Homo sapiens: one gene and its partners. The gene in region 2 interacts genetically with the main gene of each other region. Each region holds a gene or a part of one and is shown on either strand. Other genes may lie near its edges. The genes, in order: SCYL1, SLC35A1, COPE, MED23, SAP18, LEO1 and GFI1B.

Evidence for each region.
Region 1: changes in SLC35A1 (region 2) and SCYL1 together harm fitness more than expected from each alone (negative genetic interaction), as found in Homo sapiens cells (one large-scale study listed by BioGRID).
Region 3: changes in SLC35A1 (region 2) and COPE together harm fitness more than expected from each alone (negative genetic interaction), as found in Homo sapiens cells (one large-scale study listed by BioGRID).
Region 4: changes in SLC35A1 (region 2) and MED23 together harm fitness more than expected from each alone (negative genetic interaction), as found in Homo sapiens cells (one large-scale study listed by BioGRID).
Region 5: changes in SLC35A1 (region 2) and SAP18 together harm fitness more than expected from each alone (negative genetic interaction), as found in Homo sapiens cells (one large-scale study listed by BioGRID).
Region 6: changes in SLC35A1 (region 2) and LEO1 together harm fitness more than expected from each alone (negative genetic interaction), as found in Homo sapiens cells (one large-scale study listed by BioGRID).
Region 7: changes in SLC35A1 (region 2) and GFI1B together harm fitness less than expected from each alone (positive genetic interaction), as found in Homo sapiens cells (one large-scale study listed by BioGRID).

What each region holds. Positions count from the first base shown.
Region 1 is NC_000011.10:65,531,583-65,535,082, forward strand, and holds part of SCYL1 (N-terminal kinase-like protein), read left to right. Parts: coding exon 1-101; intron 102-1,109; coding exon 1,110-1,223; intron 1,224-3,500. UniProt on the Homo sapiens protein: Regulates COPI-mediated retrograde protein traffic at the interface between the Golgi apparatus and the endoplasmic reticulum. Involved in the maintenance of the Golgi apparatus morphology.
Region 2 is NC_000006.12:87,475,974-87,479,473, reverse strand, and holds part of SLC35A1 (CMP-sialic acid transporter), read right to left. Parts: intron 2,113-3,500; coding exon 1,935-2,112; intron 1-1,934. UniProt on the Homo sapiens protein: Transports CMP-sialic acid from the cytosol into the Golgi apparatus, functioning as an antiporter that exchanges CMP-sialic acid for CMP. Binds both CMP-sialic acid and free CMP, but has higher affinity for free CMP.
Region 3 is NC_000019.10:18,909,388-18,912,887, reverse strand, and holds part of COPE (coatomer subunit epsilon), read left to right. Parts: intron 1-1,816; coding exon 1,817-1,917; intron 1,918-3,500. UniProt on the Homo sapiens protein: The coatomer is a cytosolic protein complex that binds to dilysine motifs and reversibly associates with Golgi non-clathrin-coated vesicles, which further mediate biosynthetic protein transport from the ER, via the Golgi up to the trans Golgi network.
Region 4 is NC_000006.12:131,590,243-131,593,742, forward strand, and holds part of MED23 (mediator of RNA polymerase II transcription subunit 23), read right to left. Parts: intron 2,930-3,500; coding exon 2,764-2,929; intron 2,219-2,763; coding exon 2,146-2,218; intron 1,286-2,145; coding exon 1,071-1,285; intron 201-1,070; coding exon 80-200; intron 1-79. UniProt on the Homo sapiens protein: Required for transcriptional activation subsequent to the assembly of the pre-initiation complex. Component of the Mediator complex, a coactivator involved in the regulated transcription of nearly all RNA polymerase II-dependent genes.
Region 5 is NC_000013.11:21,143,119-21,146,357, forward strand, and holds part of SAP18 (histone deacetylase complex subunit SAP18), read left to right. Parts: intron 1-1,973; coding exon of another isoform or gene 1,974-2,166; intron 2,167-3,239. UniProt on the Homo sapiens protein: Component of the SIN3-repressing complex. Enhances the ability of SIN3-HDAC1-mediated transcriptional repression. When tethered to the promoter, it can direct the formation of a repressive complex to core histone proteins.
Region 6 is NC_000015.10:51,954,779-51,958,278, forward strand, and holds part of LEO1 (RNA polymerase-associated protein LEO1), read right to left. Parts: intron 1-3,500. UniProt on the Homo sapiens protein: Component of the PAF1 complex (PAF1C) which has multiple functions during transcription by RNA polymerase II and is implicated in regulation of development and maintenance of embryonic stem cell pluripotency.
Region 7 is NC_000009.12:132,988,694-132,992,187, forward strand, and holds the end of GFI1B (zinc finger protein Gfi-1b), read left to right. Parts: intron 1-367; coding exon 368-505; intron 506-982; coding exon of another isoform or gene 983-1,048; coding exon 1,049-1,214; intron 1,215-2,044; coding exon of another isoform or gene 2,045-2,064; exon of another isoform or gene 2,065-2,146; intron 2,147-2,178; coding exon 2,179-2,357; 3' UTR 2,358-2,994; downstream 2,995-3,494. UniProt on the Homo sapiens protein: Essential proto-oncogenic transcriptional regulator necessary for development and differentiation of erythroid and megakaryocytic lineages.

The DNA of each region.
Region 1 (3,500 bases), on a different chromosome or scaffold from region 2:
AGTTCCTGAGCGCTGAGGAGTATCAGCAGAAGATCATCCCTGTGGTGGTCAAGATGTTCTCATCCACTGACCGGGCCATGCGCATCCGCCTCCTGCAGCAGGTGAGGCCTCTGTACCAGACTCTGTGGTGGTCCACCCAGACCCCAACCTGGTGGCTGGGGAGGCACCTGCCCTGGCTGCACAGGGACCCCAGAAACCCCACCCCTGAACATACACACAACTGAGGGACCCAATGAGGCCAGGCTCTCAGAAAGTTGGCCACATACAGGGCTCCTTGGCAGTTTTGGGAATGGCCAGCTTGCCCAGGCTGCAGCGCTCTAATGCCCCCTCCTCTCCTGGCTCAGTCACTCTGGCCCTCTAGAGTGGGGATACAGTCTTTCTCCTGCAACCCCAGGGCAGCTGGGAGCATCAGACAAGATGGATGGGATCTAGGAAGTACCAGTGGCTCCCAGTGCCATTCCCTCTGTGACCACCAAACACACCAGTCCTCCTCGTGGCACTGTGGGCAGGTGGGGAGGAGCAGGGAAGGGGTGATACCCTCATTTATAGAAGAGGCTCAGGCTGGGCGCAGTGGCTCATGCCTGTAATCCCAGCACTTTGGGAGGGCCGAGGCAGGCAGATCACCTGAGGTCAGGAGTTTAAGACCAGCCTGGCCAACTTGGCGAAACCCCGTCTCTACTAAAAATACAAAAATTAGCCAGGTGCGGTGGTGGGTGCCTGTAATCCCAGCTGCTCAGGAGGCTGAGGCAGGAGAATTGCTTGAACCTGGGAGGCAGAGGTTTCAGTGAGCTGAGATTGCGCCACTGCACTCCAGCCTCGGTGACAGAGCAAGACTCTGTCTCAGAAAAAAAAAAAAAAAAAAAATAGAAGAGGCTCTGAGAGGGTGGCCAGATGAGCCGGACTATGAGCCAGGCCTTCCTAGCGCCCTCCTGGCCTTTCCTCACTCCTCCACCTGGGCCTGAGGCCAAACACCTGGGTGGTGGCTCAGGAGGTTGACCTGGCTGGCCAGTGCCTGCTGGGTGGAAAAGCTAAGCCAGGAGCGGTTCCATGGCTATGGGGATAGAGTGGGAAGGGCTGACCATGTTGACGCATCCCAACCTGGGCCACAGATGGAGCAGTTCATCCAGTACCTTGACGAGCCAACAGTCAACACCCAGATCTTCCCCCACGTCGTACATGGCTTCCTGGACACCAACCCTGCCATCCGGGAGCAGACGGTCAAGGTGGGTGTGGCCAGGCCCAGAGTGGCTACCCCTGGTTTTCCAAGGCTTGGAGGGGCTCACCCTAGACACAGAGGCCTTGGCTTTGGCCCATGGGTCCAAGCAGACACTGTCCTTGCTGTGTGGGTTCAGGCCGTGGGTGCAGCTCGGCAGCTGGCGGGGGAGCACGTCCTCCATTCAGCAGACAACGAGCATCTGCCTGTTCCTGGCCCAAGCCCCATGCTGGGAGGCAGCATGCATGAGGTGCCCAGCCCCCTGCACTCATGGAGCTTCCTTTCCAGGGCACAGAGGGTGGGCTTGCCAGACAATACAACAGAATTAGAAAATATGTATTGTTGGCTGGTCACGGTGGCTCACGCCCATAATCCCTGCACTTTGGGAGGCTGAGGCAAGCGGATCACCTGAGGTCAGGAGTTCGAGACCAGCCTGACCAACATGGCGAAGCCCTGTCTCTACTAAAAAGTACAAAACCATCTGGGGATGGTGGCGCATGCCTGTAATCCCAGCTACTCGGGAGGCTGAGGCAGGAGACTCAATTGAACCTGGGAGGCAGAGGTTGCAGTGAGCCGAGATCATGCCGTTGCACTCCAGCATGGGCAACAAGAGGGAAACTCTGTTTCAAAAAAAGAAAGAAAATATGCATTGTTGGAAAGTGTGGGGAGAAGAGTTTGTGGTTTTAAAAACAGTGGTCAGGGGCTGGGCGCAGTGGCTTACGCCTGTGATCCCAGCACTTTGGTAGGCCGAGGTGGGAGGATCGCTTGAGCCCAGGAGTTGGAGACCAGCCTGGTCATCATGGCCAAACCCCATCTCTACAAAAAAATACAAAAGTTAGGCGCGTATGGTGATGCACGCCTATAGTCCCAGCTACTCGGGAGGCTGAGGCAGGTAGGTAGCTTGAGCCCAGGAGGTTGAGGCTGCATTGAGCTGTGATCGTGACACTGCATTCCAGCCTGGGCAACAGAGTGAGACCTCATCTCAAAATTTAAGAAATTATTTTAGGCCGGGCCTGGTGGCCCATGCCTGTAATCCCAGCACTTTGGGAGGCCGAGGCGGGTGGATCACCTGAGGCGATGGGAGTTTGAGACCAGCCTGGCCAACATGGTAAAACATGGTAAAACCCCATCTCTACTAAAAATACAAAAAATGGCTGGGCCCGGTTGCTCACACCTGTAATCCCAGACTTTGGGAGGCTGAGGTGGGCGGATCACAAGGGCAGGAGATCAAGACCATCCTGGCTAACATGGTGAAACCCCGTCTCTACTAAAAGTACAAAAACAATCTAGCCGGGCATGGTGGTGGGCGCCTGTGGTCCCAGCTACTTGGGAGGCTGAGGCAGGAGAATGGTGTGAACCTCGGAGATGGAGCTTGCAGTGAGCCGATATCGCGCCACTGCACTCCAGCCTGGGCAACAGAGCAAGACTCCGTCTCAAAAAAATAAAATAAAATAAAAATTAAAAAAATTAGCCAGGCATGGTGGTGGGCGCCTGTAATCCTAGCCACTCAGGAGGCTGAGGCAGGAGAATTGCTTGAACCCAGGAGGCAGAGGTTGCAGTGAGTAGAGATCACACCACTGCACTCCAGCCTGGGTGACAGAGTGAGACTCTATCTCAGAAACAAAAAAGATACGGAGACGAGAGTGGCTCTGAGGCTTGTGGCCTGAGCAACTGGAAGGTTAGGAGTTGCTATTTACTGAGATGACACAAGCATGTTGGGCCCCATCTTGGCTGTTTCTGTTAGGCAGCTGGATGGAGATGTCGAGTTGGCCACTGGTTATGCATGTGTGAAATTTAGGGAAGTCTGGGCTAGGGGTATGTGCCTGGGGGTTGTCAGCTCACAAGATGGCATTGAAAGCCATGAAATGGCTGAGATCACCTAGGGCAAGAGTGTTAGATAGAAAAGAGCCCTCTAGATTGGCTCCGGGTGTGTGAACGTTAGAGTCTCAGCAAAAGGAGCAGCCAGCCAGGTCAGAGGAGAACCAGGAGGGGGTGGTGTCCTGGAAGACCAGAGACCAAAGTTTCAGGGAGGGAAAACTCAGGGGTGTCAGAACTGCTGAGGGTCAAGTTTGGTGAGGATGGAGAACTGGCTGTTGAAATTAGTACCGGGGAGGGCATCAGTGACCTCACCCTGAGCCAGTTTGGCAGAGTGTGGGGCTGTTTGTGTGAGTCTAGGTGGAGTGCCATCAGGAGAGCAGAGCAGAGGAAATGGGAAACAGGAGTGCAGACAGACTTTGGAGGTTTTGCTGTAAAGGGGGACAGAAATGGGGTCCCTTTCTTCAACATG
Region 2 (3,500 bases):
TAGAAAAGTGGTTCGGTAAATGGAAAGGAATAACAGCCTCAATTCTTACTTCCCTCACAGCTGTAATGGGTGTACTTATTCTTGTCGGGTGCTGTGTCATACCATGCATCTGTGGGTTGGTGCAGAGTAAGTGCTCATAGAAATGGCACTTACTAAAACCTCCCTTAACTATCCTCCACCTTATCCAGAGAAGCTTCTTCTTTCGGAAAATTGAGCAGAACTAAGCCAAGGCATGTTAAAGAAGTTTGAAGAGAAAGAGGTGTAAGGAAAATGCAAGAGGAGGGGATTGTTAGATATGAGTTCTAAATTTCTCTTCGAAGAATCAGTATGTCAGTATGTTCAATTCTTTGCCTTCTACTTTTAAATTTAACTTCCTCGTAAAGCAACCTTTTCTGATTACCCTCTCCACCCTGACTCATTCCGATTTCCTGCTCTGCCATAACCATTTTTCCCGCCAAACCACTCATCCCATCACTCTCTTTAAATTAGCCAACTGGAATTAGTTTAGCCTGTGCAGTCTAACCCTAGCCAATAGGGGAACGACAGAGCCATAGAGGCCACGTGCATAAGGAATAAGTCCCCTTTTCCTCCCTTGTCCAGGTGTGCGCTCACCATTGCTCCATCTGTGAGGGCACACCCTTCTATAGAAGGAAAACTGCCTTGCTGAGAAGAAAAAAAGAAAATTTTGTATTCGAGTGCTGTTTTTTTGTGTGTGGCACTGAAACTTTATTTATAACACATATTTTTCATATTCGAACTACTTCAAGTGGATTAGTATAAGCCTTTTCAAGATCTAGAACCAATTTTCAACACTTTCACTCGGTATCTTTCCCAAAATGATAGCCATGCTTGCAGTTGCATTATCAACTGTCTCATCACACACTGCTGAAGCTGAAGCAATCACAATGTCGTGTAACATTTCAATATTTAAATGTAATGTCTGTTTCTACATAAAAGCCTACACACAACACTATTCCTCCCTGCTTCCCTTCACTCACCAACACACATCTTGAAACCTGTATGACTTCTTAACTGCCCCAATGACTCCTATAGGTCCCCATCTCATAAATCTTTCCCCTGGTAATTTACCTATTAGATTTTATTTAATTTTCAGCACCCCATATTATTTTCTCAAATTAAAAAAATGAACAAACTGAAGCTTAAAGAGGTTACAAGTGTGTATGCAGCCACAATCTCAGTCTAGGATTAAAATTAGGTCTATCTCCTCCAATGCCCCTAATTCTTAACCCTCTCTTATACCACATCCTTAGCTAAACAATTCTTGCATGATGTTTTTGATTCAAAGCCCGGTGCTGCCACATATTAACAGTGTAATCTTAAGGAACCTCAGATGCTGCGTCAATAAAACAGGGGTAAAGTACTTACCTTGAAAATGTGGAAGAAGTAAATGAGAAAACACAAAAAACACATAGCACAGTGCCTAGCACTTAACATAGGAAACACTCAAGAAATGTTATTATTATTATATTCATCCAAAACACAAGTCAATAATTGTTTTCTGTAAGGGCCAAACAGTAAATATTTTAGGCTTTGCAAGCCAGTCAGTCTCCATTACACCAAAACCAGGGAGCAAGCTGGATTTGGCCCATGAGACATAGTTTGCCAACTTCTATTCTACAGCAGCGTTCTTCAACCTCAGCAGTACTGACATTTGGGGCTGGATAAATCTTTGTTGTGAGGCTGTCATGGGGATTGCAGGATGTTTAGCAGCATCCTTGGTCTCCACCCACTAGATGCCAGTAGCATCTCTCAAGTTGTGACAACTAAAAAATCTTCTGGGGGGCAAAATCACCCCTAGTTGAGAAACACTGACCCAGAGCAATTAAACATATAAAGATGTAGCTTGAATTTTCTAACAAATACCCTCACCAGGTAGAAAAATAATTTAACACACTATAAGTATTTATACTCACTTAGCTAAAATTCCCACACTTAGCAATAACTTTATAACTTCTGTGATACACACGGCTGTGGTTGAAAAGTAGAGTTCTTTGTCTGATGTCCTTGTGTATCTTAAAGCTATGGTATAGACTGCAGCCATCAGGGTCATCACTGCCAAGCAGTATAACTTGAATAATAAAGTGACATTGTCTGGAAAATACGTGCAACAAAGACATTACTTAGTAGACAATATATGTATATATAAGTTAATAAACTAGTTATAGCCTAAAAATACTTTCCAATTCCAAGCACAAAATATTTTCTAAAACTCATGCTTAAAAATTTTTTTCAAAACAATGTTTGCCAATTACATGAGCGTGCACACACACACACACACACACACACCACAGCTGACTTTAAACATCAGCCAATTAGGCATAAGTTTTGTTCCTAGGGAGTGCCCCAATTGCAAGACTATGTAGCGTACTGATTCTAGTTCAGGATGTTATAAATTACATTATATATATATTGGTGGTGGTGGTGGGTTTTTTTGGAGACAAGGTCTCACTCTGTCCCCCAGGTTGGAATACAGTGGCGCGATCTCAGCTCACTGCAACCTCCACCTCCCAGGTTCAAGCGATTCTCGTGCCTCAGCCTCCCGGGACTACAGGCGTGCACTACCACAGCCAGCTAATTTTTTGCATTTTTAGTAGAGATGGGGTTTCCCCATGTTGGCCAGGCTGGTGTCTAACTCCTGACCTCAAGTGATCCGCCCACCTCCGCCTCCTGAAGTGCTGGAATTACAGGTGTGAGCCACCGTGCCAGACATATATTTTAGGACAGGGTCTCACTCTGTCACCCAGGCTGGAGTGCAGTGGCATGATCTTGACGTGATCTCGGCTCACTGCAAACTCCACCTCCCGGGTTCAAGCAATTCTCCTGCCTTAGCCTCCTGAGCAGCTGGGATTACAGGCACCCGCCACTACACCCAGCTAATTTTTGTATTTTTAGTAGGGAAGAGGTTTCACCATGTTGGCCAGGCTGGTCTCGAACTCCTGACCTCAGGTGATCCACCCACCTCGGCCTCCCAAACTGCTGGGATTACAGGCATTAGCCACCACGCCTGGCCCCAGCACATATTTTAAATATTTTTATGATTACAAACTTGTGGATGCAAAGCATGAAACCAACTGCAGCAATGTATATTCTAGATTTAAAGGCAGCAGAAAGAAAATAATAATTGAGAAATGAGTGGGGCTTAATATAAAACTTTTTCACAATAAGAACTTACAACTAGCCACTCATTTCATTGCATTATACAAAACAATAATTCATAACACAGGAAAAGAATATTAAGAACACACCTCTATAAAACTAGAAATGCAGGAAACATATAAACACTTAATTTAAGAATTGCCTGCAAGTATATCTGAGCAGCAGCCATCTCTCAGGCACCAGAGCCTGTCCAAGACCTTTGGTAAAACCATAAGCAGTGGGTACCAAGTCTCCCTCATACTTCCTTATTCCCAGACCTGCTCGGGTACTGCCATCACCCAAGGATCAAACTATTTCTACTTTCCTCACCCACCTCCCACCTA
Region 3 (3,500 bases), on a different chromosome or scaffold from region 2:
AAACAAAGCAGGGACCCAGGCCTGCAGTGTTCAGTGACTGTGAACAGCCAGCGCAGCCAGCATGTGAAGGTGGCTGTGTCACGGAGGCCTGAGACTGCCAGGCCAGGGGGCCTGGGTCACAGCTTCTTGATTTTTTTTTTTTTTTTTTTGAGACGGAGTCTCACTCTGTCGTACTCGATCTCAGCTCACTGCAACCTCCGTCTCCTGGGTTCAAGTGATTCTCCTGTCTCAGCCTCCCAAGTAGCTGGGACTACAGGCGTGCGCCACCACGCCTGGCTAATTTTTATATTTTTAATAAACACGTGGTTTCACCACATTAGCCAGGGTGGTCTTGAACTCCTGACTTCATGATCCACCTGCCTCAGCCTCCCAAAGTGCTGAGATTACAGGCGTGAGCCAACGCGCCCAGCCGATTTTTTTTTTTTTCCTAAAATAATTGGTAGGAGCCAGGCACAGTGGCTCACACCTGTAATCTTTGGGAGGCTGAGGTGGGAGGATCACTTGAAGCCAGGAGTTCAAGACCAGCCTGGGCAACATAGTGAGACCCCCGTCTCTACAAAAAAAAATTAAAAAATAAGACAGTCATGGTGGCATGTGCCTGGAGTCCCAGCTAATTGGGAGGCTGTGGCAGGAGGATCAGTTGAGCCCAGGAGGTCAAGATTACAGTGAGCCGTGATCACGCCATTGCACTCCAGCCTGGACAACATAGCAAGACCTTGTCTCTAAAAAAATAAGAATGGGGGCTGGGCCCGGTGGTTCACGCCTGTAATCCCAGCACTTTGGGAGGCCAAGGCGGGCAGATCACCTGAGGTCAGGAGTTCGAGACCAGCCTCAACATGGAGAAACCCTGTCTCTACTAAAAATACAGAATTAGCCAGGTGTGGTGGTGCATGCCTGTAATCCCAGCTACTTGGGAGGCTGAGGCAGGAGAATTACTTGAACCTGGGAGGCAGAGGTTTCGGTGAGCTGAGGTCACAGCATTACACTCCAGCCTGGGCACCAAGAGCGAAACTCCATCTCAAAAAAAAAAAAAAAAGGCCGGGCGTGGTGGCTCACACCTGTAATCCCAGCATTTTGGGAGGCCAAGGTGGGTGGATCACAAGGTCAGGAGATTGAGACCATCCTGGCTAACACAGTGAAACCCCGTCTCTACTAAAAATACAAAAAAATTAGCCGGGCGTGGTGGCGGGCGCCTGTAGTCTCAGCTACTCGGGAGGCTGAGGCAGGAGAATGGTGTGAACCTGGGAGGTGGAGCTTGCAGTGAGCCGAGATCACGCCACTGCACTCCAGCCTGGGCGACAGAGCGAGACTCCGTCTCGAAAAAAAAAAAAATGGGGAAGGAACCATCTAGGAGGGAACACAATGAGGGACGGGCCCCCAGCTGCAGATGTGACAGTGGTATCAGTCTGGGCATCCTCAGAGGGCCAGTAGGTGGGCAGGGCTGGCTGGGGGCATGTCCTGCTTTATAGAAGCGCATGTCACAACCCCCATAACTGCTGCTGCCCTGCCCCCAGGTGACACGCCCTTCACCTCACCACCAGAGGTGGACAGCTGCCAGGGGATAGACAGTAACCTACCAGGGTCCCTAGCTCAAGGCATGGGCAGTGTGGCCCTGCAGATGAGGGCACACCTGGCTGCTCACGACAGGTGACGCCATGCCACCCTCCACAGTGTACTGCAGTGGAGGTGGCCCATGCTGGGCTGAGGGGTCCCTGGTGGGGCAGGGACTTCCTGTCTGGGGCTCTCCCTGCCAAGCTGAAGACATGGAAATCCTCTGGGGTGGACGGGTGCAGCTGACGCCTCGTCCCTACTGCAGAGGAAGTTCGGTGTGGTCCTGGATGAGATCAAGCCCTCCTCGGCCCCTGAGCTCCAGGCCGTGCGCATGTTTGCTGACTACCTCGCCCACGAGAGTCGGAGGTGAGGCCCCAGAGAATGGGTTGGCCTGAGGCGCGGGGCCATCTTCAAGGCCTGTTGGTTATGAACCTGGGTGGGTGGGGGCATGGCGTGCAGCGCACAGCATCCCTCAGATTAGGCGCCTCTCCCCTCTGCTCCCCTGCTGCTTTGTGCCTCAGTTTCCCTCACCTGCACAGCAGTGGGGGGCTGGTGATGGATCCTGCTTCAAAGGGGAGGGTCAGAGACAGTGCTGTGTGTGCACACGCCCTCATGGACCACAAGGCACTCTCTGAACCTAGAACTGAAAATATCAATTACCGAGCAGCCCTCTGCAACACCCAGAGCCCCAAGACAGCCCAGGGCGCAGCGGGGGCAGGGCCCTCCCATCAGTTTTCTTATTTATTTATTTAGAGATGGAGTCTCACTCTGTCACCAGGCTGGAGTTGCAGTGGTGAGATCTCGGCTCACTGCAACCTCTGCCTCCTGGGTTCAAGTGATTCTTGTGCCTCAGCCTCCTGAGTAGCTACGACTATAGCTGCGTGCCACCACGTCCAGCTAATTTTTGTATTTTAGCAGAGACTGGGTTTCACCGTGTTGCCCAGGGTGGTCTCGAACTCCTGAGCTCAGGCGGTCTGCCCACCTCAGCCTCCCAAATCCTATCAGTTTTCTAGTCCCAGCTAGTTGGGGACTGCAACCTGCCAGTATCTCCCCTGGAGCCCAGTGGGAGGGTGGGTGAGGCCACGCCTGTCCTGCCCCTGAGCCACAGGCCAGCGTTGGTCAAACGCCCATGGGCGGCAGCCAAGGGGAGAGGGGGCTGGGCTGTGGGGACCCAGGAACCTTGCCCCCTCCTGCTGTGGGGTCGGAGTGAGGGTCTGGCATGGGGAGACTGCTGTGATCCTGCTCTTCCTTGGCCCACGGAGGCAGTGTCCCAACTACCGCCTCCCTTCACTCAAAGAAACCTGGGGTTCCTGGGAGCTGACTCCTGTGCAGAGGCAGCATGGTGGGGTGAATGGTGTCCCCCAAAAGGTACGTCCATATCCTATCCCACATGCTTGTGAATATGATATCATTTGGAAAAAGGGTCTTTGCCGATCAGATTAAGAGATAAGGAGATGAAGACATGCTGGATTTAGGGTGGGCCCCAAAGCCAAGGACTTGTGTCCTTTTAAGAGATAAAAGGAGGGCTGGGTGCAGTGGCTCATACTTGTAATCCCAGCACTTTGGGAGGACGAGGTGGGCAGATCACCTGAGGTCAGGAGTTTTCAAGACCAGCCTGGCCAACGTGGTGAAACCCCATTTCTATTAAAAATACAGAATTAACAGGATGTGATGTCTGTGATTCCAGCTACTTGGGAGGCTGAGGCAGGAGAATCGCTTGAACCTGGCAGGCAGAGGTTGCAGTGAGCCAAGATCGCACTAGTGCACTCCAGCCTGGGTGACAGCGGGAGACTGTCTTAAAAAAAAAAAAAAAAAAAGGAAAGAGGCCCACAGAGTTAAGCCCATGTGACAACAGACTGGAGTGACATGTCTGCTAGCCAAGGAGCACCACGAGTGGCCAGCAGCCACCAGAGCTGGGAGAGAGGCCTGGGACGGCCTTGCCCTCCAGC
Region 4 (3,500 bases), about 44 Mb from region 2:
TTCAATAACACTGGTAAAGAAACTTAAATAGATACTTCAGAATTTAATCATGTCACAGGAAACCCAGATTATATTTTACCTCTATCATACAACGAGTTCTCTCTTGCTGAAATCTTTGTAAAAATGGTCCAACAAGATGGTATACATAAAGCAACTGGAATTCGGTCTTCACTATAGGAAGAAGTACTTCAGTAAGAAACCTAAAATTTGAAGATAAAAATCTCCTGTGACTTGAAATTATTTAAATTGTTTGAATTTTGTTCATACAGTATATACAAAGTATTACAATAAAATATAATTTTTTAAAGTTCCTTTTAATTTGGTAACAATAATATTTCTAATTAATCTCACATCTCTCACTGGCTATTACTTTCACTTGATTATTTTTATTTATTTATTTTTTTGAGACGGAGTCTCACACTGTTGCCTGGGCTGGAGTGCAGTGGCGTGATCTTGGCTCACTGCAACCTCCGCCTCCTGGGTTCAAGTGATTCTCCTGCTGACTAGCTGGGATTACAGGTGCACACCACCACGCCTGGCTAATTCTTTTATTTTTAGTAGAGACGGGGTTTCACCATGTTGGCCAGGATGGTCTCAATCTCCTGACCTTGTGATCCACCCATCTCGGCCTCCCAAATTGCTGGGATTACAGGCATGAGTCACCGCGCCCAGCCGCAAGTTGTTCTAATGAATGAAGTATATACCTCATCTGTTAATGAGATTAGAACAAAATGAAATACAATTTTTTTTTTTTTTTCAGATGGAGTCTCACTCTGTCACCAGGCTGGAGTGCAGTGGCGCGATCTTGGTTCACTGCAATTTCCAGCTCCCTGGTTCAAGTGATTCTCCTGCCTTAGCCTCCCGAGTAGCTGGGGTTACAGGCACACACCACATGCCCAGCTAATTTTTGTATTTTTAGTAGAGATGGGGTTTCACAATGTTGGCCAGGATGGTCTCAATCGCCTGACCTTGTGATCTGCCCACCTCGGCCTCCCAAAGTGCTGGGATTACAGGCATGAACCACCGCACCCAGCCTACGTCAAATTTCTTTAAGAAATTATTATACTTACTTTGGAATGAGAGAAAGTTGTCCGATGCTAGAATGGTGCCACACAGCATGTGCAAGAGCTAACGTATAGCTACAACTCATCTCAGAGTAGGACTGATGACAGGCAGTGAAATCAAAGAGGCGGAATGGATAGCCAACCCACTCTGTTTCAGACGTCAAGCTGGGGCTGCTGATGACACTCACAATTCGATCATGAAGAACAATCCAATATGGCTCCTTTAAAATCGGAGGAAAGCTAGTGAAAAATATCACTTATCCAGCATTCCACCCCAAAGTCTAAAGTAATAGTGTTTTCTCATTCTTTAAAGTTTTCTATTTTTCCAGCTTCTGCACAATACAGCTGGGTGGCTTTGTAACTGGTCAAATTAAGTCAGTAACAACCTGGGAGAAGTAACTGTGAGTTAAGGGGCTCCATACATGTATCTGTCCAGCTCATTTAGGTACCTGATATACACTATGCAGTAAATCAATTAATTTATCAAACAATAAATCTATAGCTTTATTACTTATTTAAAAATAATAAACTTTAAAAAAATATGTGTGGAGGTCAGAGAAAGGAGTCTTCATGTGAGCTGGAAAAGTCAGGGAAGGCTTCATTCACTGAGAAAGGAGGCTCTAAGCTAGCAAAGAATGAATAGGCTTTAGAGAAGGTGATGGAAAGAAGAAGCTTCTGGAATAAGAAAAATGTCTTATTCCCTCACATTCAGAAGTACCTAAAACATGTCTTAAGCACTATCTGAAGGAACAAAGGCTGTAGATATACAACACGTTAAGTGGCCAAGAGTAGATCAAGCTATTATGTAAAAACTAAAGTTGGATAGGTAAGGTGGTACCAGAAAATGCAGAGACCCGTAAGTCACATAGATATATTTAGATCTAATACAGAAAAGCAAAAACTAGTCACTGTAGATTTTTAAAGCAGTAATAATATGAAAAAACTTTAAAAACATAAAATACTTCATTAATTTGCATGACGTCCCGTACAAGGGCATCCTATATGCATCTTTTTCTTTTTGCTGACATGGAACAGCTGGCTGTATTTCATCACTAAGTACAAATCACAATTATTAACTCACTGGTAGGGCAGTGATGATCAAACCAATTGCATTCATCCATGCTGTAATGTTCTCTCTTGGCACTAAAGGCTGACTGCAACCGGCAAAAAAGAATGTAAGTATGAATTTATAAAAACATTTTAGATGGCTGACAACGGATCTTATTTTTAAAGAATATGTCTAATTCAGAGGATCGACAACTAATCCATTTCAATAAAACAATGGGGAATTTTTTATTGAATAAAAATGTAATATGCATAAAAACTCAAGAAGGCTTTTTAAAAATACTTCCTCCCCAATCATTATCCCATACTTCATGCTAATTTTTAAAAGAATCTTGAAATCTTGAAAACAAGATGAAGAGAATCTTGTTTTAAGTGACAAGTTAACATTATTCCTATATTAAATGTCAAACTGCTATTAATGAGTAGAAGTAGGAACAAACCCGGATCTTAGGATCCTGTCCAGGGCTCATTCCATAACTCCTATATCACAAAGACAAGATCTGGAACCAGAAAACAGTCATCATCCAATGTGCATCAGCCTTGCGGCAACAGGTTTGTCTTAAAAGTTTGAAATAGAATACCATTCTATTTACAAATAAACAACAAATCTTACTGCATGAACCAGAATACATACCTTTTTAGGACAACATTTAGAAGGGCATTCCCAACTTCTTTGCCTGAAACTGCCAAGGCCATGAGCTCCACACAAGTAACATGGAGAGCATGGGCAGCTGGGTTGGGAAACTCATTGAATCTCCAGTCACAGTTTGGAAAGGGACCAGGAGATTTGCCAGCCATCGGTGCACACAGTTAAAGCAATAACAATTGGACTATCTCATCTGATTGTCAATTTATCTGATTATGAGCTGCCAAGAAGTGATTTGTCTACGCTTAGAGAGATTAAGAGGCAAATGCAAACCAAATACAAATGAGTTTGACATGATTGAAATGTATTAAAAGCAACCATTTGATTAACCACAGGTATAAATGGTTGGTCTTTCAGGTGGGTTCTTATAAATATGACATATAATAGCCACAGATGCAACCAAGGTTTACCTAGGTTTCATGAGCCTATTTCTTTTAATAGTTATAAGACATTAATATGAAAATTATTTTCTAATGAGTCATTCTTTTGCTTCAGAAAATAAATTCCTTTGTGTAGGAAAATAAGTCATGCTCATTTATGTAGAATTTCTTACCTAGTAAAATAGTGGTATGGTTATAGACATTAAGTATAGAGTGCTAATAACTGAAAATATAAAATCAAAATGAAGAAATAAACATCCAAGTATATTTTCACTAAAATATACCTTTTCAATAAAGAAAAATATATTTTATCATTTATTATTTACTACAAACATTAATTTTTTT
Region 5 (3,239 bases), on a different chromosome or scaffold from region 2:
TGATGGACACTTGGGTTGTTTCACCTTTTTTGCCATTGTGAATAATGCTGCTGTGAACATTGGCATACAAATGTGTTTGTGTCGCTGCTTTCAGTTCTTTTGGGTATGTACCTAGGAGGGGATTACTGGGTCATATGTTAACTTTGTTTAATTTTTGAGGAACCACCAAACTTTTTCACAGCAGCTGCACTATTTTATATTCCCCAAAAGATGTATAATTTTAAACTATTTAAGCCCTGTACACTAGAGCTAATCCCTTGAAGATTGGGACCTTACTTGTCTTATTTGGAGGTGCTTGTTAAATTTATGTAGTAGTATGATACCTGTACTTAAGCATCACTCAAGGGTAAGTGTTCTAGGAAGGTTGATTTAGCTTATATGGAAGAACTGTTGAATAATGGCTTGATGAAAATCTCTTCAGAAATTAAAGTGTATGTTTCTTCCAACAAGAGTTCCTATTTGCCAGGTGCTGTGTGTGCTTAGATCCTGAGGGTATAAAGTCAAGACGGTACTGCTCCTCCCTGTAGTAAGTCCTTTTATCAGGGAAAGCGGATGAATAGAGTGATTTTTAGGGTTAAAATGGCAGGGTGAGGTTGTTCCACAGACCTTCCACTCTGAATCAAGAAAAAAAATTACCAAAAAAATCCTGTCCTAAACTATACCGTCCATAAATTGCAACCAAACAAAGAAGGAACAACTTTAAGTTACATCTCAAAATGGTGGCCAAAGAAAAGATTCTGAAAGACTGGATGATTGGTATGGGGGTAACACAAAGGCCTGCCCTCATTCCCAGAAATAGTAATGAGGGAAAATTAGTTAACATATACTGGAAATTCTCAATTTGGAGAAGTAGACTGTGGGGTTAAATAGGCAGTCCCAAGAGAAGTTATGGAAACAGGAGTGGAAGTCCAGAGGAGCCCAGTAGAGGCAGGCTGTGTTCACCAAAGTCAATCAGGGCTCAGCCAGAAAAACAGAATTGGGAGAGATGTGTTAAGAGATTTATTTCTGCTGGGCGTGGTGGCTCACGCCTGTAATCCCAGCACTTTGGGAGGCCGAGGTGGGCGGGTCATGAGGTCAGGAGTTGGAGACCAGCCTGGCCAACATGGTGAAACCCCGTCTCTGCTAAAAATACAAAAATTAGCCAGGCATGGTGGCGGGTGCCTGTAATCCCAACTACTTGGGAGGCTGAGGCAGGAGAATTGCTTGAACCCAGGTGGCAGAGGTTGCAGTGAGCCGAGATCAGCGCCACTGCACTCCAGCCCGGGCGACAGAGCGGGACTCCATCTCAAAAAAAAAAAAAAAAAAAAAAAAAAGCTTTATTGCAAAGAATTTGGTTTACGTGATTGTGGGGGCTGTCTAGGCCCTTAATTGTCAAATCTGTAGGGCAGGTTCTCAGGAAGGAAAGGCTGCTCTTAGGGCCTTTCAACTAATAGAATCAGGCCTCCCCAGATTATATAGGATAGACCTCTGAATTTAAGGTCAATTGGTTGTTGACTTTAGTCACATCTATAAAATATCTCACAGCAATACCTAGGTTAGTGTTTGGTTGAATATCTGGGGACTGTAGCTTCGTCAAGCTGACACAAGTACTGAACCCCACCCTGTCCTCAAGCTTCTGACTAGTGATGAAAAAGCAACACTTGGCACTCCAATTGTTGGTCTGGAAAGACAGTCCTTAGAAGGTGGGAAGCTTGTGTAGGTTTCACACTGTCAGAACTGATAAAAGGTGTGATATAAATCCCCCAAATTAATTAAGAGCAAGACAATATTGAAAATATTTTTAGAAAGGAAAAAATTCTTTCTGGTATATATCATCATAAGTATGTACTGTGTATCAGAATATAGACTGAGCATCGCAAGTCCAAAATCTGAAATGCCACAAAATCTGAAACTTTTGAGAGCTGACGTGACACCGGTGGAAAATTGCACACATAAGTTCTTGACCTCTTTTTTTTTTTTTTTTTTTGAGACAGAGTCTTGCTCTGTCATCCAGGCTGGAGTGCAGTGGCGCGATCTCGGCTCACTGCAACCTCTGCCTCCCAGGTATAAGCGATTCTCCTGCCTCAGCCTCCTGAGTAGCTGGGATTACAGGCGTGCACCAAACTTCCTTTCATGCACACAATTACTTAAAATGATGTATAAAATTGTATTCCAGCTGTGTATAAGGTATGTTTGAAACATAAATGAGTTTCTTATTTAAACTTGGGTCACAACCCCAAGATATCTTACGTATATGCAAAAATTCTAAAATTTGAAAAAACCTAAAACGCTTCTAGTCCCATGTATTTTGGGTAAGGGATACTGAACCTATAATTGATACAGAATAGTTAACATCAAAATATCAGGTTGAAAAAAGGTCACCTCTGAGACAGATAAACCAATGTGACCTCAGGTTTTTTTGTTTTTGAGACAGAGTCTCAGTCTGTCACCCAGGCTGGAGCACAGTGGCACAGTCTTGGCTCACTGCAGCCTCCGCCTCCCAGGTCAAGCGATTCTCTTGTCTCAGCCTCTCGAGTAGCTGGGATTATAGGCTACAGATGTGTGCCACAACGCCTGGCTAATTTTTGGATTTTTAGTAGAAACGGGGTTTCACCATGTTGGCCAGGCTGCTCTCGAACTTGAGCTCCTGGCCTCAGGTGATCCACCCGCCTTGGCCTCCCAAAGTGCTGGGATTACAGGCATGAGCCTCCGCACCTGGCAAAAAAATGTATACTAGGTTATTTCTAAGATGCTTATATGTTAAAATATTTTTTTCAGATTGTTCTCTTATTAGCTCAGGGGACTATATGAAAGTTGGATTCAAGTCAATATTTGCAGGGTAAGAAACTATTGTGACAAGAGCCTGTGCTTCATTGTAAGAAACTTTTGTATATTTCATTGGCTCTAGTACTCTTATCTGTTGTAAAACTTACAATTCTATCTAAGAAAGAAGAAACACATCTGGCTGGGCGCAGTGGCTCACGCTTGTAATCAATCCCAGCACTTTGGGAGGCCAAGATAGGTGGATCACTTGAAGTCAGGAGTTCGAGACCAGCATGGCCAACATGGTGAAACCCTGTCTCTACTAAAAATAGAAAAATTACCTGGGCGTGGTGGTGGGCGTCTGTAATCCCAGCTACTCAGGAGGCTGAGGCAGGAGAATTGCTTGAACCTGGGAGGCGGAGGTTGCAGTGAGCTGAGGTCACGCCACTGCACTCTAGCCTGGGCGACAGAGCGAGACTCTCTCAAAAACAAAACGT
Region 6 (3,500 bases), on a different chromosome or scaffold from region 2:
GTGAATTTCTGAGCTCCTAGAATCATAATCATAGAGAAAGCTTAGAGCATTTGAGCAGATGGCAGATACTAAATGTACACTAACCCCGAGATGTGTTAAGACAGTAAGAATTACAAGGGTCAGGCGATAAAACTTGAGTCCATGTGAGGCAGAAATTTTTTTTTTTTTTTTTTTTTGAGACGGAGTCTTGCTCTGTCGTCCAGGCTGGAGTGCAGTGGCGCAGTCTTGGCTCACTGCAAGCTCCGCCTCCCGGGTTCACGCCATTCTCCTGCCTCCGCCTTCTCAGTAGCTGGGATTACAGGCGCCCACCTCCAAGCCCGGCTAATTTTTTCATATTTTTTAGTAGAGACAGGGTTTCACCGTGTTAGCCAGGATGGTCTCGATCTCCTGACCTCATAATCCGCCCGCCTGGGCCTCCCAAAGTGCTGGGATTACAGGCGTGAGCCACCACGCCCGGCCGAGGAAGAAATTTTGAAGTGAAACCCCTGTATAAAGCAAGTTCTCTCACAGAGCTAAAAACTCCATAAAAATGAGACCAAAAACTCTGCCTATTGGCACAGAGAGATAAACTTCCCATATATGAATAAGGATAAATAAGTGCCCTATGAAAATGAAAACCCCAGATTTCAATAGGTTTAGAGCCTAACTATCTTACCTGCATGGTGGGGAAACACCAGAGTTGGCAAATGAAAACCACTGTTACTGAAAGTAAAGTCAGTGGGATCTCCAGGAAAACATGGCATACTAAACGCATGCAGTTTATCACTGCTGCCTCCTGGAAACCCACTAAAATGACAATGAAGAGTAAAAACAGGACATACAAGGATAGAAAGAATGAGAATGAAGCTGGCAACAGACAGAAGCCAACAATGTGAAAACTGCCAATGCCAAGACCATGCTTCCCTCTGCCTGTTCCCCCAGTGTCAATCCTAAACACAGCTGCTCCCAGTCCCACGGAGATCGTCTGGATCTCCACTCCTTTAGCTGCAAATGTCTGTGCAGCTGGGTCCTAATGATTCCCCCTTCCAGTTTTTCCCCTTTCCCTATTTATTCCTCACAAATAGCTATAAAGTGTGCTGATTGAATAACTCCATCATATTTATGAATTAAACATGATGTCATACCTGAAATTTGTTTCAGAATAGTCTGGGGAAGCTGGGGTGGGGAATATGTAGATGACAAAAGATTGTTAACTCGACAACTGTTGAAGTGGGTCATGGGCACATGAAAGAGTTCATTATATTGTTTTTAATACATTGGTGTATGTTTGAAATTTTCAGATTGAAAACAAAACAATCTGTCACTATTCCTGTCTTCCATCTCATACAATAGGTTGGCCACATATAAATACACAAATATGCCGGGTGCAGGGCTCACACCTGTAATCCCAGCACTTTGGGAGGCCGAGGCAGGCAGATCACCTGAGGTCAGGAGTTCAAGACCTACCTGGCCAACACAGTGAAACCCCATCTCTGCTAAAAATATACAAAAATTACCCGGGCATGGTGGCATGTGCCTGTAATTCCAGCTACTCGGGAGGCTGAGGCTGGAGAATTGCTTGAACCCGGGAGGCGGGGGTTGCAGTGAGCTGAGATTGCGCCACTGCATTCCAGCCTGGGCGACGACAGAGCAAGACTCCATCTCAAAAAAAAAAAAAAAAAAACCACAAATAGGCCATTATTAATTGAGAAGCCGTTCTAAAAAATGCTTTCTATTATATAAAGTGATTCAAATAGTAATGATGCTATAATAGGACACATTGCTAGGTCTTAACCTATCAGGATGAAGGACACATAATAGTATTTCTGAAGACAGGGGACCTCAGAGAGGTACATAAGCTGTACCTGGTTCCCTGGTTCCTTGTTCTTAAAGAATTAACTACACCATGCTTTAAGACTGGTCAGCGTAGTCTTAAACATCACTCAAGAAAATAAGGGTCCAGGGTTATTTCCTATCACACACCAAGGTTTTAAGACAACAGTTTATGTTAAACACCAACATTTTGTAGTCTGATGCACTGAAATTTTAGGGTAAAATACATATTTATAAATTTTTTTTTGGGGGGGAGACAGGGTCTCGCTGTGCTGCACAGGCTGGAGTGCAATGGCACAATCACAGCTCACTGCAGCCTCAAACTCCTGGGCTCAAGCAATCCTCCCGCCTCAGCCTCCTGGAGTAGCTGTGACTATGGGCATGCGCCATCTCTGCTGGCTAATTTTTTTTTATTTTTAGTAGAGACAAGGTCTTGCTCTGTTGCTCAGGCTGGTCTGAAACTCCTGGCCAGTCTTCTCACCTCGGCCTCCCAAGGTACTGGAATTACAGATATGCGGCACCATGCCCGGCCTTTGAAGTCTGACACCCATACTAGAATCTGGTATCACATGGTCTAAAAATATAATAGATATATTGATACTAGCTGTAGCATCATGACAGAAAGTAAGAAAAAGGAAAAAGACAAAATTAAATAAATTGATAAAAAGTGAATAAGGAACTACTATATTAGTTTATATGTATATGACAGGAAACAATGAAAAGTAGTAGAATTAAAGCCAGAGGCACTAAAACAACCATGAAAAATTGATACTGCTAAGCCTAAATCAATACATCCATGTGTCCCAAAGAAATAATATTAACAGATGGGCTAATAAACAGATGAGTAGATGGGTGGTGGAGGGAGGACAGGAAAAAAAAATAGTGTAAGCAGTATATCTGTTGACTGTGTGATCTTGAACAAATTATTAGCACCTGTTTATCTCAGTTTTCTTATTTGATTTGCATTTCCATTAAGAGGAGTAGTGAAGTCTCACTGAAAAGCTTTTGGATAGAAACCATCTTATATCAAGGTTATTTAGGTAGTTGTTAATATACCACATTGAAGAGATGGTACTATTAAAAATATAAAAATTCAGTGCCTAAAAAATGCCAGACTATCCCTTTCTAACAATTTAATAAGGTACCAAGGCCAGGCGCGGTGGCTCACACCTGTAATCCCAGCTCTTTGGGAGGCCGAGGTGGGTGGATCACCTGAGGTCAGGAGTTCGAGACCAACCTGGCCAACATCGTGAAACCCTGTCTCTACTAAAAATACAAAAATTAGCTGGGCATGGTGGTGCATGCCTGTAGTCTCAGCTACTTGGGAGGCTGAGGCAGGAGAATCACTTGAACCCAGGAGGCAGAGGTTGCAGTGAGCTGAGATCATGCCACTGCCCTCCAGCGTGGGCGACACAGCGATGCTCCTTCTCAAAAAAAAATATATAAATACCCACTAGAAAATAAGAAATTTACAGGAAATCCTTCGGATTTAAGAATTGAAAATGCATAATTCCAGTTTCAGTATCATGCATTCAACCACCTCTTGTTCCCTTGTGCAACTCAATTCTAAAATGTCTACTTGGCCAAGTGCAGTAGCAATCATGCCTGTAATCCCAGCAATTTGGGAGGTCAAGGCGGGAGGATCACTTGAGCTCAGAAGTTCAAGATCAACCTGGGCAACACAGCAA
Region 7 (3,494 bases), on a different chromosome or scaffold from region 2:
GTTCAGAGAGGTTAAGTCACTTTTCCAGGATCAGACAGCAAGTAGATATCAGAACCAGCATTCAAACCCAGCTTCGGCCAACTCCCAGCTCTTAACCACTGGGCTATTCAGCCTCTAGATGAGGCAAGGAGGGGCCTCCAGATCCCCTCTCTCACATCCAACTTTGTAGAAGGGAGACTGAGCCACAGAGAGGCAAACGGACCTCCCTGGGACACACAGCAAGCAAGCAGCAGAACTGGCAATCCAGTGCCCCTTACTCTGTGTACCCAGCCTTGGCCAGAGCTGGGCATGGAAGAGACCATGGGACCCCAGGCCTGTCCCTGTCACCGCAGCCCCCAGTGGCCTCACATGCTGCCCCTGCTCCCAGGTCTTCTCCACCCCTCACGGGCTCGAAGTGCATGTGCGACGCTCCCATAGTGGGACCCGGCCCTTCGCCTGTGACATCTGCGGCAAAACCTTCGGCCACGCTGTGAGCCTGGAGCAGCACACGCACGTCCACTCCCAGGTGGGCACCTGGCCCAGCGCAGGACTCCCAGCCCCACTCCTTCTCTGTGCTTCCCCAGGGAGCCTGGGGGCTGTGGCTGGGTCCCTCCCCCTGCCCCTGGGGGTGACACAGATTGGGAGGGGTCCCCTAGTACCCACCTCCCTGGGTCTGGGTCTCCAACACCTGCCCTTAACAAACTTCAGACTCTTAACTAAACCACCGTGCAGACCACAACCATCCCTGCCTCAAGGAACTCACTCTAGGTTAATGGTCATGAAATGTGAACCCCTAAAGAACCTCTGAGATCAGTCAGTCCATCAGTCAATCAACGAACATTTATTGAGGTTTATTTTGAGCGGGATACCGTGAAGATTACAAGGAAAAATCCCACAGGAGACCAATGAGACTCCAAGCCCCAGTTTCACCTCAGAGGCAGAGATGAGGGGTCCCCCGGTCCTGCTCCTCCAGGCCGCCCCAATGGAGTGTCCTGTTCCGCAGGGGATCCCGGCCGGGTCCAGTCCTGAGCCTGCACCTGACCCCCCGGGGCCTCATTTCCTCCGGCAGGAGCGCAGCTTCGAGTGCCGCATGTGCGGCAAGGCCTTCAAGCGCTCGTCCACGCTGTCCACCCACCTGCTCATCCACTCAGACACGCGGCCCTACCCCTGCCAGTTCTGCGGCAAGCGTTTCCACCAGAAGTCCGACATGAAGAAGCACACCTACATCCACACAGGTGAGTGAGTCTCACCTGCCTGTGCCCCCTGGGCAGAGCACCCCCACCTTTCCCTGAGAGATGCATCAGAGGCCCCCAGCGTGAGGCTGGGGGCGGGGTCTAGTTACAAAGTCAAAGGCCACTGCTGATGGAGGGCTGGGCACCTGTGCTACTTAAGTGCACTTAATGCATGGAAAAAAATACAGGGAGGAAACAGCAAAATCTCAACACTGTTGATCTCATGGCAGACATGAGACTAGCAGGCGAACTGCTCATTCATTTGTTCACTCATTCACTCACTCACTTGCTCATTCATTTGTTCACTCATTTGCTCATTTATTCACACATTCGCTCACTCATTTGCTCATTCATTTGTTCACTCATTCATTCATTTGCTCATTCATTTGTTCACTCATTCATTTGCTCATTCATTTGTTCAGTCATTCATTCATTTGTTCACTCATTTGCTCATTCATTTGTTCACTCATTCATTCATTTGTTCACTCATTTGCTCATTCATTTGTTCACTCATTCATTCATTTGTTGATTCATTTGTTCACTCATTCACTCATTTGCTCATTTATTCACACATTCGCTCACTCATTTGCTCATTCATTTGTTCACTCATTCATTTGCTTATTCATTCCTTCACTCATTCATTCACTTGCTTATTCATTGCCTCCTTGCTATTAGCTGAGTGCCTCTTTTGTGCCAGGTATACCAGGCTTGGAGATGTATTGATAAACAAGATGACTCGGCAGCTGCCCCTAACCACCCTATAATCCAGTAGGGGTGGAGGAGGGTCCAAGTTGTATCTTTGCTTCTCTCTCTTTTCTAATTATTTTCTAAAGTGAATGTGAGTTGGCCATGAGAGAAAACACAGGAAGGTATTGGAAAATGAACCCGGGGGCAGGGCAGGGGAGCAGCAGGCCTGGTGAGGAGGCCCTGACCCCGCCCTTGCTGTGCTGCGCTGCCCTCCCTGCAGGTGAGAAGCCGCACAAGTGCCAGGTGTGCGGAAAGGCCTTCAGCCAGAGCTCCAACCTCATCACCCACAGCCGCAAGCACACAGGCTTCAAGCCCTTCAGCTGTGAGCTGTGCACCAAAGGCTTCCAGCGCAAGGTGGACCTGCGGCGGCACCGCGAGAGCCAGCACAATCTCAAGTGAGGCTGCGCCGGCTCCCAGCTCCTGGCCAGCCTGCCCTGCGGTCCTGTCACCTGGAGGCCAGCCTCACATGCCCAAATCTCCAGTCTCCTGGAGGTGGGACTGGACAGGAGTCTACCAGCTTGTTTTGAGACTCATGAAATTGCTGTGTGACCTTGGGCAAGTCACTTACCCTGTCTGGATCAACATTTCTCCTGCTGCCAAGTGTGGGAGCCTGGCTGGGTCTTTCTCAGCAGAAGTTGTTTCCAGGTGTGCTCAAGTGCCTTCCTCTAGCAGAGCACAGAAAGCTAGAATACCCCCAGGGAGACAGGGATGCCAAGAGTAGACCAGAGCTGGGACCCACAGACAGAACCTCCACCTGCCTGCTGCCCACTGAGCTGGGACCTGGTCACCTTGGATTTTAGCCGGCCTCTTTCTGGCTATAACAGGCAGAGTCGGAGCTGCCTCCCACCCCAGTCAGAAGCCTGGCACCCCCTCTGCTTCGGCCAGATGTGCTGGCTGACTCCGACTTCCGACCAGCACTCAGCTGGCCTCTGGGGATTCTAGCTCCACAACCAGGCCGTGAGGCTGGAGAAACTGGCAGTTATTGCTGTCAAAAGCCTGTTCTCTCAACTGCTGTCAATAAAATTAAAGATACAGATTTGCTGCCATGTGACCAGCATTTATTAAGTGCCTATGAGGTCCAGGGTACTGCACGAGGCTTTGGGGAGTGATGCGGGGAGGCTTGAGGAGCAGAGAAAGCCATGGAGGTGCTCATAGGCAAGTTGTGGAGAAGTGTACTCAGCCCCCACGTGCACAGACCCGCTGACGAGCCAGGAGCAAGCAGAAGGGGCCCGTGCGACAAGACCACAGGGGTGGGCAAGGCTAGTGCAGCTGGGGCGGTATCCGTTTCCTGTGGCTGCTGTGACAAATGACCACAAACTTAGTGGCTTAAAACAACACACATTTATTCTCTTAAATTCTAGAGGCCAGAAACTCAAAATGAGTCTCATGGGGCTAACATCAAGGTGTTAGCAGGACTGCATTCCTGCAGCAGGCTCCCAGGAGAGTCTGTTTTCCTGTCTCTCACCTTCCCAAGGCCGTCTGTGCCTCTGATCTTGGCCCCTTCCTCTGCCTTCAAAGCACATAACTTGGATCTCT